Regions from separate parts of the Homo sapiens genome. Here region 1 is linked to region 2. Evidence: fine-mapped expression QTL. Tissue or cell type: whole blood. Region 2 holds a variant in brackets; the other region holds the start of a gene. All regions are shown on one strand. Distances are from middle to middle.

What was found. PIP is the estimated chance that this variant, and not a neighbour inherited with it, causes the effect.
Region 1: ABCA1 starts here. The variant in region 2 is fine-mapped to the expression of ABCA1 in whole blood (TOPMed, PIP above 0.99).

The regions. Positions count from the first base shown.
Region 1 is chr9:104,924,652-104,932,756 of GRCh38, reverse strand. ABCA1 (ATP binding cassette subfamily A member 1) reads left to right here and starts at 4,602. Exons shown (of 50, transcript NM_005502.4): 1 at 4,602-4,822. It overlaps LOC105376196 (a long non-coding RNA gene), which reads right to left and starts at 5,968. Exons shown (of 3, transcript NR_188620.1): 1 at 4,847-5,968; 2 at 3,033-3,249. RefSeq lists silencers at 4,443-4,632, 5,969-6,208 and enhancers at 4,833-4,912, 5,233-5,292.
Region 2 is chr9:105,020,112-105,028,216 of GRCh38, reverse strand. No RefSeq gene overlaps it. Among named protein-coding and RNA genes, the nearest start is that of CT70, 32 kb to the right of the region's middle. The variant C/T (reference allele first, on the strand shown) is at 4,530.

The DNA.
Region 1 (8,105 bases), 95 kb after region 2:
CCTCCCTGATTCAAGTGATTCTCCTGCCTCAGACTCCCGAGTAGCTGTGACTATAGGTGCAAACCACCACGCCCAGCTAATTTTTGTATTTTTAGTAGAGACAGGTTTTCACTATGTTGGCCAAGCTGGTCTCAAACTCCTAACCTCAAGTGATCTGCCCGCCTTGGCCTCCCAAAGTGCTGGGATTATAGGCATGAGCCACCGTGCCCCACCAGGTCTTCTTAATCATAACAAATTCATCTTAAAACATCATTTTAAAATATATTATTTTTTATTCTTCATTGACTTCCTGCATTACTCTATTTTTTCAGAGTTTCTAGCAACCAGTATCATTGGTATTTTAAACAATGTGTACATGTACATTTATGCAGATGAGTTAACATATATCAAAGCAACCTCCAAACAATGCCATTTAGGTAATCTCCAATTTAAAAGCCTCAATAGAATGATAAGATTGAGCTTTTCTGTAGTTCCATGACCTCCAGCAGAGTCTGCAAGGCCACAGCTGCCTGAAGGTTGATTCTGTAATTAGAAGATGCCAGGGTCATCTCAGAATAGAACCTCAAGCCACCCAGGCTACATTTACAGAATCAGCCTCTCCAGAAAAACAGCAACAAAGGAGGGCCTTCCTATGTATTTGGAAGGAGTCACCTAGAGGAGGGACTTGGGGTTTTGGTGTTGGTGTGGGGGGCAGGGATGGGATGGGGAGGGGGAAGCTTATTGAAATATACTAAAAGACAAACCAACCTAAGGGCTGGAGGGAAGAAAATTCACACTTGTAAGCTTCTTTTTTAAGGGGCATCTCTTAGGCTCTAGCTTTTGAGATTCAGTATATATATATTTTTGAGTCTTGCTCTGCTGGAGTGCAGTGGTGTGATCTGGGCTCACTGCAAGTTCTGCCTCTCAGGTTCACACCATTCTTCTGCCTCAGCCTCCCGAGCAGCTGGGACTACAGGCGCCTGCCACCATGCCCAGCTAATTTTTTGTATTTTTAGTAGAGACGGGGTTTCACCCTGTTAGCCAGGATGGTCTCGATCTCCTGATCTCATGATCCGCCCGCCTCGGCCTCCCAAAATGCTGGGATTACAGGCGTGAGCCACCGCGCCCGGCCCAGTATTTTTGTTTTATGAAGATATTACATTTGTAAAGTATGAGCTTGGTGTCAGCAAACTTATATCCCTGTGTACAAACTGGCCGAATCACTTAGCCACTTTGGGCCAAATCACTTAGCTCTTCTAACAGTAAGAAATCAACAAGAAAAATAAACATTTCAAACATTACAATGTGTTCATGTATTCACTGTGGGGGATGACCAGATTCTCGAAACCACAGGTTGTTCTTAGTGAAACAAGTTTGGGTTGGGGCCATAGACTTGTGTATTTAGAATCAATGGCTGTTCTCTCTCTGGGACTTTGATTTTTTTCTTGGGCTCATCCCCTTTTTGTAGTATCTTATCTTTGTCTTATTTGTATAGGACTTAACTGTTCCCATTCCCTTATTAGAGCAATCTAAGTGATTACCTTCATACCTTTTGGAATTATATGCTTCAAAATTCCAAAAAGAATGATTTTGGGCTGGGCACAGTGGCTCACACCTATAATTCCAGCACTTTGAGAGGCTGAGGTGGATCGCCTGAGGTCAGGAGTTTGAGACCAACCTGGCCAACATAGTGAAACCCCGTCTCTACTAAAAAATATAAAAAATTAGCCGGGCATGGTGGCAGGTGCCTGTAATCTCAGCTACTCGGGAGGTGGAGGTTGCAATGAGCCCAGATCGCACCATTGCACTCCAGCCTGGGCAACAAAAGGTGAAACTCCATCTCAATTAAAAAAAAAATAATGATTTTGGTGGTCGACTTCAAATAGGTAGGAGAAGAAGGAGAGAGGAGATGGAGGGTCAGGGAGATCTAATTACTCTCTAAAATCATGCTAGGAAAGATAACACCTTTTAATAACACTCTCTGCTTTTATAACATCATTCTGCCAAGGAGCTCAAAGGTTTCAACAAAGTTCACTTTCAGAAAACCCCTTTGAGGAAGACAGAATATACATCTTCTCTCCATTTTAAAGATGAAGAAACAGGCCGGGCACAATGGCTAATGCCTGTAATCCCAGCACTTTGGGAGGCTGAGGCCAGAGGATCGCTTGAGCTCCAGAGTTTGAGACCAGCCTGGATAACATGGCAAAACCCTGTCTCTACAAAAAAAATACGAAAATTAGATGGGTGTGGTGGCATGCACCTGTGGTCCCAGCTACTTGGGAGGCTAAGGTGGGAGGATCGCTTGAGCCCAGGGAGTCAAGTCTACACTGAGCCATGATTGGATCACTGCACTCCAGCCTGGGTAGACAGAGCAAGACCCTGTCTCAAAAAAAAGAAATGAAAGAGAAAGAAAGAAAGAGGAGAGGAGAGGAGATGAGGGGAGGGGAGGGGAGGAGGGAGGGGGGGAGGAAGGAAGGAAGGAAGGAAGGAAAAAAAGATGAAAAAAGAAAAAAACAAGATGAAACAGAGGCAGAAAGACTTTACGTAAATTGCTCATCATGTGGTTGTCAAGTTTGACCCCAAAACCCAATTTATTGACCAAGGTTATTCTTTGACTGAGGCAAGGGGGTCCGCTCTCCTGGGCCTTGGGCTTTAGAAAGCTCATCTCTGGCCTTTCTGAGATCCATCCCTTTCTTTTTATTTTTCTTGACACGGAGTCTTGCTCTGTCACTCAGGCTGGAGTGCAGTGGCATGATCTCGACTCACTGTAACCTCTGCCTCCCGGGTTCAAGCGATTCTCCTGCCTCAGCCTCCTGAGATAACAGGCGCTCGCCACCACATCTGGCTAATTTTTGTATTTTTAGTAAAGACTGGGTTTCATCATGTTGGCCAGGTTGGTTTCGAACTCCTGACCTGAGGTGAGCTGCCCACCTTGGCCTCCCAAAGTGCTGGGATTACAGGCATGAGCCACTGCGCCCAGCTCAGATCCATCCCTTTCTAAGGGCAAACAGTCCATGGTGCAAAGGGGCCATGCCACCCAGAGTTATGAGTACCTGGGACTCCAGAATTCCTTGCCTGGTGGCCTCCACATGCACTTCCAGGGCCTGCTTGGGCCTCTTCTATGGGTCTGTCCTGAGTGTTGATAGAACCACTGATGTGAGTACCTGGGCTTGAGCCGTGGCCTGGAGATCCTGTTGACTGTAGCATGGAGGGGGCTTGTGCAGCTGAATGTCTGTATGCAGGTGGTGGGAGTTCTGGAATATGATGGAGCTGGAGGTGGGAAGAGAAGTAGGCTTGGGGCAGCTCTCTCATGCCACCTCATTCTGGCCAAAACTCAGGTCAAACTGTGAAGAGTCTAAATGTGAATCTGCCCTTCAAGGTGGCTACAAAGGTATCTTTGTCAAGGTAGGAGACCTTGTGGCCTCCACGTGCACTTCCAGGGCCTGCTTGGGCCTCTTCTACGGGTCTGTCCTGAGTCTTCTATGAATCTGCCCTTCAGGGCAGATTCATATTTAGACTCTTCACAGTTTGACCTGAGTTTTGGCCAGAATAAGGTGACATTTAGTTTGTTGGCTTGATGGATGACTTAAATATTTAGACATATGGTGTGTAGGCCTGCATTCCTACTCTTGCCTTTTTTTTTGCCCCTCCAGTGTTTTGGGTAGTTTTGCTCCCCTACAGCCAAAGGCAAACAGATAAGTTGGAGGTCTGGAGTGGCTACATAATTTTACACGACTGCAATTCTCTGGCTGCACTTCACAAATGTATACAAACTAAATACAAGTCCTGTGTTTTTATCACAGGGAGGCTGATCAATATAATGAAATTAAAAGGGGGCTGGTCCATATTGTTCTGTGTTTTTGTTTGTTTGTTTCTTTTTTTGTTTTTGTGGCCTCCTTCCTCTCAATTTATGAAGAGAAGCAGTAAGATGTTCCTCTCGGGTCCTCTGAGGGACCTGGGGAGCTCAGGCTGGGAATCTCCAAGGCAGTAGGTCGCCTATCAAAAATCAAAGTCCAGGTTTGTGGGGGGAAAACAAAAGCAGCCCATTACCCAGAGGACTGTCCGCCTTCCCCTCACCCCAGCCTAGGCCTTTGAAAGGAAACAAAAGACAAGACAAAATGATTGGCGTCCTGAGGGAGATTCAGCCTAGAGCTCTCTCTCCCCCAATCCCTCCCTCCGGCTGAGGAAACTAACAAAGGAAAAAAAAATTGCGGAAAGCAGGATTTAGAGGAAGCAAATTCCACTGGTGCCCTTGGCTGCCGGGAACGTGGACTAGAGAGTCTGCGGCGCAGCCCCGAGCCCAGCGCTTCCCGCGCGTCTTAGGCCGGCGGGCCCGGGCGGGGGAAGGGGACGCAGACCGCGGACCCTAAGACACCTGCTGTACCCTCCACCCCCACCCCACCCACCTCCCCCCAACTCCCTAGATGTGTCGTGGGCGGCTGAACGTCGCCCGTTTAAGGGGCGGGCCCCGGCTCCACGTGCTTTCTGCTGAGTGACTGAACTACATAAACAGAGGCCGGGAACGGGGCGGGGAGGAGGGAGAGCACAGGCTTTGACCGATAGTAACCTCTGCGCTCGGTGCAGCCGAATCTATAAAAGGAACTAGTCCCGGCAAAAACCCCGTAATTGCGAGCGAGAGTGAGTGGGGCCGGGACCCGCAGAGCCGAGCCGACCCTTCTCTCCCGGGCTGCGGCAGGGCAGGGCGGGGAGCTCCGCGCACCAACAGAGCCGGTTCTCAGGGCGCTTTGCTCCTTGTTTTTTCCCCGGTTCTGTTTTCTCCCCTTCTCCGGAAGGCTTGTCAAGGGGTAGGAGAAAGAGACGCAAACACAAAAGTGGAAAACAGGTAAGAGGCTCTCCAGTGACTTACTTGGGCGTTATTGTTTTGTTTCGAGGCCAAGGAGGCTTCGGGAAGTGCTCGGTTTCGGGGACTTTGATCCGGAGCCCCACATCCCCACCACTTGCAACTCAGATGGGACCGGAGGCGGTGTTAAATGGGGAGACGATGTCCTAGTACGAGCTCTGGTGACCCCAGGACTCTGCGCTGCTGCGCTTGGGGCTTGCCCGACGGTGGAGACCGGGGAGCATCTCTGGGCGTGGAGACCCGGGCGCAGTACCCCGGGCTCAGAGGGGTCGGGGGTTCCCGGGCGTGCTGAGGGCGCTGCTGCCGGGTGGGGAGAGCTGCAGGTCCGGCACCGAGCGCTGCTTTGTTCGGAGGGCCCTGAGCTGGCTAGAAACCCTTCTGGTTGCAGGTCGGCCAGTACCTACGGAGACAAATGCCAGCACTGAGTCTTCACTCGGTTCTTAAGAAGCTGGTCTGTTCTGACCTGGGAATTGGCTATATGCTCCCCGGGACTGGAGCGGCACAGTCCCGGACTGTGAATCCGGGAACTCGAGTTGGAGGTGTCCCAAACGGTCCGTGGTGCTATTGCTCACTAGAGGCCTTGGGTCTTTGTTTGACCTGAGGGGTAGGGAGGTCCTGCCTACAGTCTCCGTGCGCTCAGCTGAGCTGGTGTCCCTGGCGCAGAGCGCGGACGAGTTTTGTTTCCTTTTCTTTTTCTTTTTTTTCTTTCCTTTAAGTCTCGGTCTGTCGCCCAGGCTGGAGTGCAATGGAACGATCTCCGCTCACTGCAACCTCCGCCTCCCGGGTTCAAGCGATTCTCCTGCCTCAGCCTCCTGAGTAGCTGGGATTACAGGCGCGTCACCACATCCAGCTAATTTTTGTATTTTTAGTAGAGACGGGGTTTCAACTTGTTGGCCAGGCTGGTCTCGAACCCTCGACCTCAGGTGATCCACCGGCCTCGGCCTCCCCAAGTGCTGGGATTATAGGCGTGAGCCACCGCGCGCGGCCGAGTTTTGTTTCTTTTAAAAACAAGACTTAGGAGAGCCTGCGGAGACCCGGAGGTGGGGTGCCCAATCCTCCCTCTCCCACGTTCCCTGCAGCCCCATCTTCCAGACCGTTGCTGCTGGTCTCTCGGGGCAGCTTCTGCCTGGGCGCAGATGGGGAAGCTGGGCCGAGGTGGTGCCGTGGAATGACCGGGAGTAACCCCGGCGGGCGGCGCAGAACTCGGAGCTCCGCCGCGGGGCTGGGCTGGGCTCTGCCGTGAGGGTGGGGGTGCTGGGCGCGCGGGCTGCGGTGGCCCCCGGAGACTGGCCCGCAGCGCCTCCTGGCCGGAGGACCTAGGAATCGGCCGGCTCTACTAGGTGTCTTTGCTCGCGGTTCCGACTGTGAATCCGGTGAAGACCGGTGGTTGCAGACGGGGAGGAACTATGAGGTTGAGGCGAAAGCCCGTTTTGTTTTTTTTTTTTTGTTTTTTTGGTTTTTTTTTTTGTTAGCGTGTTTGCCAACTCCCAGGCCATTGGTAAAGCAGGAAGGTTCTTGGGGCGGCGGACGGTGCCAGGGTTATGTGTAGGTGCCTCTTTAGGTATATCTTTTATCAAAAAGAAGCAAAGAAATAAGATTAAAAATAAACAAAGAAAAAAGTTGTCTGGCACTGGCAGTAATTGGCCTGCCTTTGCAGCACTGATACCATTAGCTTTTAAAATCCGACTTTTCATTGACACTTCAAGAAGAGAATGGGTAGTATATACACATTCATCTCATAGTGGACAAATTTCATATTTAAAAAAACCTTCTGGGTACTGAAATCAGCAAGTCACTTGCCCTCCATGGCCGAATCCCTGCTTCCCACGAAGAGAACCTCACAAAAATTTCCCCCAAGTTAAAGAGTGGAATTTTCTTGATTTTTTTTTCTTTTTTTTTTAACGGCCGTAGTTTAGAACCCAGACTTAAATTATGATCTTCTTTTCAAACAAAACTTAAAGTCCTTAAGTTTTCATCTCCCCTTTTATTTCAACCTATTCTTCTCATACCTACCACAAAAATAATGGAGGCTTTCTGTTGAGAAACTTTCCGTTTCTGTTGAGAGTATCATTCTCTTGAGAAACTTTCTCCTAAATCAGAGAAAGTATGGAAGCATGGAAAGTATTCCTGAGTAGAACCTCTACAGATATTACAATATTTTTCAAATACAAAGTTTCCATTGTCAGCCTGTTTCCCAAGTGCTTCCACAAACCATTAAATAATTCCACAAACCATTAAAATAATTAATGCTAGGGAATTTTAGGAAAACATTGGTTTACAATCAGAAGGACCGGGGAAGTGGGTCTTCAGCCTTCACGATGACTACAAGCCATTTAAGGGACTAGAATTGCTACTGTTGTCAGAGCAATTTAGGAGTCTGTATTTGAGCACCCGCATAGTGTTCCAGAATGACATATCTGACTGTAACCTGGACACGTGTGATATGTTGTCTCCCCTGCAGATGAGCATTTGAAATCTCAACCCTCGTATTTCTACGAGTGCAGGCCTATAATGGACCCTGGGCACATTTTTTTTTTTTTTGAGATGCAGTCTCGCTCTGTTTCCCAGGCTGGAGTGCAGTGGCACGATATGGCTCACTGCAACCTCCACCTCCTGGGTTCAAGAGATTCTCCTGCCTCAGCCTCCTGAGTAGCTGGGACTATAGGCGCACGCCACCATGCCTGGCTAGTTTTTGCATTTTCAGTAGAGACAGAGTTTCACCATGTTGGCCAGGATGGTCTCGATTTCCTGACCTCTTGATCCACCCGCCTCGGCCTCCCAAAGTGCTGGGATTACAGGCGTGAGGCACCGCGCCCGACCCCTGGACACATTTTGACTTAGAACATATTTTCGGTTTGTGTGAGACAGTGCATTAGTGCAGGATTGGAAAAGAGTGATCAGGAATTGATTGTTTTCAAGGATTGGTTCCTTCTGCTCAAGGAAGTCCCATTGTAAACATAAAAAAATGAATGAAACTGAAGAAGTTCAGTGACTTAGCTTTTTATTATCTTCTGTAGTACTTACCTTTTTGGAGAGGAGTTGGTTGGGATATTTTTCCATTTAAATTTTTTTTTTAAAGGGATCTTCTCTCCCGTAAGCCGGGATACTTAAGCTATATATGTAGTGGCTACAAATTAAGGTCTTCACTGTTTTCATTTTTAGCTGCTAGAATAAGTGAACATTACCTTAGATAGACTCTTCTAATTATGAAGATATCTAGATGTCTAGAAAATATCAAAATGCATGTGGTTTTTGCATTTCTAAA
Region 2 (8,105 bases):
CCCAAAGTGCTGGGATTACAGGCGTGAGCCACCACACCCAGCTGTAAACTAATAATTTTTATAGCCCAATCTACGTTGAGACATAATTCTATTGTATGTATATACCAGACTTATTTCCCTGTTCTCCTATTGATGGACATTTAAATTGTATTCAATTTTAAAAGTTATAAACAGTGCATGTGGTAAACTTTTTATAGGTTAGAATTTTAAAGTTTTTAGTTGGTAATTGATTCATCGATCAGACATTTGTCAAGGACCCATTATGTGCTTTTTACAACACCAGTAGCTCATATATCAGTTCACAAGATAAAAATGGGATTTCTCTATTACCTGTCCGGCCCATAGTAGCCTTCATAACAAAAGCTAGTTTCAGGAGAGCTTTCTCTGTACCTGCTACTGTGCTTGACCTTTTATAAACATTTATCTATAGATGGGGAATTAGTATTCTCATTGCACAGATGAAGTAACGGAATCCTAGAGAGGACAAGAAACCTATGCAAGGACACATTATAAATAAGCAGTTGAATTAATTAATTCATTCAACATTTTTTTAAACAGCTATTAAGTGCCAGGCATTATTCTGGAGTCACACTGAAAGTAATACAGTGGTGAATAAACCAGATATGAATCTTACACTCTGGATAGCAGACAATAAGCAAGTAAACAAAGGTAGAAATGCACGATTTTAAGTTGTGACAAGTGCTGTATAGGAAATGATTGGGTGCAATGGTAGAGAATATTGGGGGCAGGGTTGGGAGGAGGAGAACTACTTAGATTGGGTGGTCAGACAGGCCTTTCAAGGGAGCTGAAATTTAGCTGAAACCATAAAAGGAGAAGGCAGAGTTCTTCCAAGTAGAGCACACAGCTGGTTTAAAGGCTCAGAAGTGGGAAGAAGCTCAATGTACCCAAGGAACCGAAAATACTCCAATATAGCTGCAGGAACGCTGGTGAGGTCACAGAGGCCCAGGATGACAGTGGAGAGAAGGCAGCTCTAGTCCTATCAGATTTCTTAACTATGAAGAGGAATATACATTTTATTTGTGATGGAATGGGTCAGTCTTCAAGGGTTTCAAACAGGAGGCAAAATGCTCTAATTTATTTTTTTAAATAATCACTTTGGCTTTTCTGTAAAGAAAAAGGTTAGAAAGATGAAAGAGTGGAAGTGCTGAGAAAAGCAAGGTGGACATGTCAACAATCCAAGTGAGAGATGACGGGGTCTTGGGCTAAGATTCTACTGAGGAAGGATGGAAGTCGAAGATCTACCTGTTTCTTGGTGGGATAAATGACAGGACTGTGACTCCAGAATCTGCTCTCTTTCCTCTGCCACAGAAACTGCACCTCACTGGCTGGGAATGAGGATATCTTATGGAAGATTCTTATTTTTGGAACTTTTTGAACTCTCTCTGTTGGCTTCTGAAAGCTGAATGCTCTTTCAAAGGACCTGAAGATTTCTTTTGTCCTCAGTTACATTGAGCCCACATTTATGAGGCACTGGTAAAACATTTCTGCAGGAGGGAGTTATGTGCATTGTTCCTCTTAGAGAAACATTGCTCATACTAACTCCTGACTGCATGCATTTTGCAAATGCACAGCTCAGTGAGTGTGTCTTCCCGTTGTTTGTGGTTTACAATCCTGCAAGAAATGGCTTTCTATGAGGCAAAATGGATAATGGCCTTTTATTTTAAGTTACAAAGAGTTGGGTGGCAAGGGGGTAGGGAAGGCAACCCTAAATGCTTTGAATGAATTATTGAATTGACATGGTCCAAAGTGACATTTCTTTTTAAAATGTTTCTTTTATTAGTTTTTTCCTTTTTCTCAAAAATAATGAATATTTATCACTGGAAAACATGAAACTACAAAGAACAACAGACTCCACAATTCCACTTACCCAGGGATATTCACTATAATGTCTTAATGTATATGAAGGTAACTCTTAAACAATTTGTTTTATTTTTACTAAAATTAAAAATCAGTCATTCTTAATATAGACAGTTTACAGAATATAGAAAAGCAGAAAGAAGAAAGTAACTCACCATCCAAGGATAGCTGTTGATAACATTTTAATATGTTTTAAAGTCCTTTTTAATGCATATTTTATATAACTGATATTATATCATCCATTTGTTTTTCCACTTAATATTGCCACCTAATAATTTTTCTGTTACACAAGTTATTAATAATTATATTTATAAATTTGCATAAATTTGTATTATAGCAAACACTGATTATAGTTTTATGTATATATAATTTATGCAAAATTTATATGCATAAAACTATAATCAGTATTTGCTACACAGTGCCTTGAATCCCTAACTGTAAAACAATAAATACATAAAATAAAAATAATACCAACCTCACTGGGTTGTTGTGAGAATTAAATAGGTTAGATGAGTTGATGTACACAGAGCAGCTCGTATCACTTTCTTCCTATGAATTTAGTCTACTTCATTTTTTTATTATATGTAAATTAATGAAAATTCTTATATGTAATTTCATTATTATATGTAATTCCTTATAGAGCTTTGTCAATAAAGCTCTTTCTGTATGGATTATTTCCATTTCTTTTAGATTTAATGCCCAGAAGTAGACTTACTGGGTCAGAGGGTAGGCACAACATTAAGAAATTTAACATTATGTTTGCAAATGCCCTCATGGGATATGGATTTGGGACTTGTAAAGTCTCAAGATTTATTTATCTATTTTTTGAGATGGAGTTTTGCTCTTATCGCCCAGGCTGGAATTCAGTGATGCGATCTCGGCTCACTGCAACCTCCACCTCCCGGGTTCAAGTGATTCTCCTGCCTCAGCCTCCCAAGTAGCTGGGATTACAGGCACCTGTCAGCACACCCAGCTAATTTTTGTATTTTTAGTAGAGACGGGGTTTCACCATGTTGGCCAGGCTGATCTCGAACTCCTGACCTTAGGTGATCTGCCTGCCCCGGCCTCCCGAAGTGCTGGGATTACAGACGTGAGCCACCGCACCTGGCCAATCCCAAGATTTAGATTGTGTTACAAGTGGCTGCCTTGTTAGCGATTACCATGAGTAGGTGGCTAGTGTCACACTGGATGACCTATAGGGTTAAAATTTTGTATGTGGAACAATATTGATTCTCCCCTGTAGCATGGGACAGAGGGAGGAATGCCTTTCTACCTAGGTATAGCAGAATCACCCAGGCGACTTTTTAAAAATGTTAATCCTCCCTTCTTTCTCCACAGCATCCTAACATTCTTTGCCAGGGAATGCCTTTTCCCTCTGAAAATCCCAGCATCCTCTGCCTCCCCAATCACTGATATAATAAGGGCCACTTTACATACAGAGGTGTATTATTTCCTTCAGATGTGTTAAACAGGGAAAAATTTTGAGAAACTACCAACGGTTTAGGTGATGACAAATAGTGGTTAGGACTCAATGTCTGAAGCAAAAGAGGAGATTGCATTAGTCAATTTTGACAAAGACTGCTTGGTGCATCCCTGTGGCTGCCCATTGTAGCTCACAGCGTTGCACTGGGCCCCGCTGTAGATGCCCAGGAAGGCTGTCTCCTAAATTGAAAGAGTGTGGCGTTAAAAGTCTCCACGGAACCACAGAGATCTTTTCATTCAGCTCTGAGACCCGTTTTTAAACCCTGGATGGCTCCGTTTTAATTCCTAGCCCCTATAACTCAGCCTGGATGGTTTCTCCTTATCAAAGCTACTATCTCTCCTCTTCCTTGCCCAGGCTGAATTTTTTTTTTTTTTTTTTTTTTAGATGGAGTTTCGCTCTTGTTGCCCAGGCTGGAGTGCAATGGCATGATCTCGGCTCACTGCAACCTCTGCCTCACAGGTTCAAGCGATTCTCCTGCCTCAGCCTCACAAGTATCTGGGATTATAGGTTTCCACCACCATGCCCGGCTAGTTTTTTTATTTTTATTTTTTTTTTTGTATTTTTAGTAGAGACGGGGTTTCACCGTGTTGGCCAGGCTGGTCTTGAACTCCTGGCCTCAAATGATCCACCCACCTCAGCCTCCCAAAGTGCTGGGATTACAAGCGTAAGCCACTGCACCCAACCCCAGGCTGAATATTAATGGCACATAACTTTCTGGTTCCCCCATTCTATGCTATTTGGGTGGGGCTTAGCTCACCTCAGCCTCAAGACTGGCCAGTCAGACTATTCCATCTCCTTGGCCACAGTGATTGGTTCAGGGGCAGGCACATTACCCAAACTGGACCTTTCTGCAGGAGCTATCAGGAAAGATAGCTTTCTCTGAGGTGCAAGCTGTGTGGATGATGCAAGTGCTAGCAGCTTGAAGCCATTGTGGAGAAACTGTCTGCAGAAGAGGCCAACTGCAGAAAGAAGCAGAGCTGAGAGATGTCACTTCGGACCATGTCAATTCAAGAACATTGAGCTCCTGGTTTGAGTTGTAGAAGCTGTAGGCTTCTCTTTAATACTCCCTCCCTCCGCAGTATGTTTTTTGTTTTGTTTTGTTTTGTTTTTGTTTTGAGACGGAGTTCTGGTCGTGTCACCCAGGCTGGAGTGCAGTGGCGTAATCTTG[C/T]GCAGCCTCCACCTTCTGGGTTCAAGCGATTCTCCTGCCTCAGCCTCCGAAGTAGCTGGGATTACAGGCGCACGACACCACGCCTGACTAATTTTTGTAATTTTAGTAGAGATGGGTTTTCACCATTTTGGACAAGCTAGTCTCAAACTCCTGACCTCAGGTGATCCGCCCGCCTCTGACTACCAAAGTGCTGGGACTACAGGCATGAGCCACCATGCCTGGCCTGCAGTATGGTTTTGTTTTTCGTTTTGTGTTTTTTTTTTTTTTTTTTTTTGAGACAGAGTTCCGCTCTGTTGTCAGGCTGGAGTGCAGTGGCATGATCTCGGCTCACTGCAACCTCTGCTTCTCGGGTTCAAGTAGTTATCCTGCCTCAGCCTCCCGAGTACCTGGGATTACAGGCATGTGCCACCACATCCAGCTAATTTTTGTATTTTTTAATAGAGACAAGGTTTCACCATGTTAGCCGGACTGGTCTTGAACTCCTGACCTCAGGTAATCCACCTGCCTCAGCCTCCCAAAGTGCTAGGATTACAGGTGTGAGCCACTGCACCTGGCCCAGAGCTGTTTTATTTTTATTAAATGCTGCATAGAATCAATTGTCGAAATATGTTTGGGGCCAAGTGCGGTGGCTCATATTTGTAATCCCAGCACTTTGGGAGGCCAAGGTGGGCAGATCACTTGAGTGTCAGGAGTTTGAGACCAGCCTGGCCAACGTGCAAAACCCCATGTCTACTAAAAATACAAAAATTAGCTGGGCGTGGTGGCACTCGCCTGTAGTCCCAGCTACTCAGGAGGCTGAGGCACCAGAATCACTTGGACCCGAGAGGCAGAGGTTGCAGTTAGCAGAGACCGAGCCACTGCACTCCAGCCTGGGCAGCAGAGTGAGACTGTGCCTCAAAAAATAAAATAAAATAAAATAAAATAAAATAAAATAAAATTAAAATAAAATAAAATAAAATAAAATAAAATAAAATAAAAGTCATATATTATTAGACCAGTTTCATTTAGATTGACATATATGTTGTTTGCAAGCTTTTGGTATTACAAACAATGTTGCAAATATTACCATCATACATATATCATTTTGTGGGAGAATATCTGTAAGCTAAATTACTAGAAATAAACTTGCTGTTAAAAGGTACGTTTAAAATTTTGATAGATTTTGTCAAATTACCTTACACAGAGGTTATGTGATTTTGTGCTGTCTTCAGCAATGTGTGAAGGTGCACATTTTTCCACACTCTTGGCTAACACGTGTTATTAGTTTTTCCATCTTTGCCAATCTGATGGGTGAATAAATAGTAACTCATTGGAATTTAAATTTACACAGAGGAACTTTTAAACTTACAAAGCTTTAGGGATGTGTACTGCATGGTGAGATTGCAGAACTTAGAGCATTTGAGCCATCTCTTGCCTCCATTTCTTTGGAAAGCAGTTAATATAGTCCTTTTCCTTAAGTATTAGAATGATCTCTGAAGTTTGAGACCTTGCGACCATAACAGGTTCCCTGGTCTGAGTCATTCTGAAAGCAATCACAGTTATGGTACAGCTACTATTTGTCACATTCTCTATAGGTGCCATCATTTATGTAATCTCATTCATATTGAATACTCCAAACAGACTTACGCAGTAGGTATTATGACCTCCATGTCAGCGGAAGAAACTTGCCCAACATCATAGAGCTAGTAAGAGGCAGAGGCTATTCAACTTGACTTGGAGCCTGCACTTTCCCCAAGACTTTATCATTCTAATTGTAGACAGGACATAATATATGCAACCGTAACAAATTCCTGATGCTCATGCAGTTCATTCTATCCACAGTCACATTTAAAGAAGAAATAAGAATTCCCTCCAAAGTTATTAAAAATTGATTCTATTTTTTATTCATGTCTCTTATAAATTATTGAAGGGGATCCAGTTCCCAGCGCAGAACCGCACATCTCAAAAACTCCTTCCTCCACTCTCCAATTCTGTTATATCTTGAATCTGCTCTGGAATCTCTCATGTGCCAAACTCCCATCCTCCGCCTTCAGCCCTGGCCCCATTTTCTTCTACTAATTCCTTTTTAAAATAAGAATAAAACAAAAAACAAACAAGAAAACCCCTCATAATATGAGATCTACCCTCTTCAGTTTTTAAGTGTATAGCACGTTATCGTTAACCATAGGTGCAGTGTTGTACAGCCGCTCTCTAGAACCTTTTCATCTTGCGTTATTGAAACCCACTGAACAGCAACTCCCCACTTTCCCTCTCCCCCACCATTTTACTGTCTGTTTTTGCTTCTATGAGTTTGGCTACTTTAGATGCCTCATGTAAGTGGAACCATGCAGTATTTGTCCTTCTGCGACTGACTGATTACTCTTAGCATAATGTCCTCACCGTCCATTTTCTTCTGTCTCCTTTTCTACTATAGCCCAGCTCTTATGAAAAACTTGATCTCTTATAAAACTGGGTATCTCGTTAAATTCTTCCCCTGCTTCTTATGTCTCTACTCATTCTATAGATTCTGCATCTCAAAATTCAGGGAACTACCCCAGCCAAGAGAGAGAGAGACTAAATGGACAAGAACACACATTTTTTTTTTCAACTTTTATTTTAGATTCAGGGGGCACATACGCAGGTTTGTTACAAAGGTATACTGCATGATGCTGAGGTTTGGAGTATGATTGAACCCGTCATCCAAGTAGTGAGCATGGTATCCAATAGGTAGTTTTTCAACTCTTGCTCTCTTCACTACCTCCTCCCTCTGGTATTCTCCAGTGTGTTGTTTCCATCATCATGTCCACGAGTACCCAACGTTTAGCTCCCACTTAGAGAATATGTGGTATTTGGTTTTATATTTCTATGTTAGTTTGCTTAGGATAATGGCCTCCAGTTGCATCCATATTGCTGCAAAGGACATGATTTTGTTCTTTTTTATGTCTGTGTAGTATTCCATGATGTATATGTACCACATTTCCTTTATCCAGGTCACTATTGATGAGCACCTAGGTTGATTCCATGTCTTTGCTATTGTAAATAGTGCTGCGATGAACATACGGGTGCATGTGTCTTTTTGGTGGAATGATTTGTTTTCCTTTGGGGTATCTACCCAGTAATGGGATTGCTGGGTTGAATGGTAGTTCTATTTTTTTTTTTCTTTTGAGAAGGAGTCTAGCTCTGTCGCCCAGGCTGGTGTGCAGTGGCATGATCTCGGCTCACTGCAACCTCTGCCTCCTGGGGTCAAGTGATTCTCCTGCCTCAGCCTCCAAGTAGCTGGGATTACAGGCACCCACCACCACGCCCAGCTAATTTTTGTATTTTTAGTAGAAACGGGGTTTCACCATGTTGGCCAGGCTGGTCTCGAACTCCTGACCTCGTGATTCACCCACCCTGGCCTCCCAAAGTGCTGGGATTACAAGTGTGAGCCGCTGTGCCTGGCCTTTTTTTTTTTGAGACAGAGTCTTGCTCTTGTTGCCCAGGCTGCAGTGCAATGGCGCAATCTTGGTTCACTACAACCTCCGCCTCCCAGGTTCAAGTGATTCTCTTGCCTCAGCTTCCCAAGTAGCTAGGATTACAGGCATGGTCCACCATGCC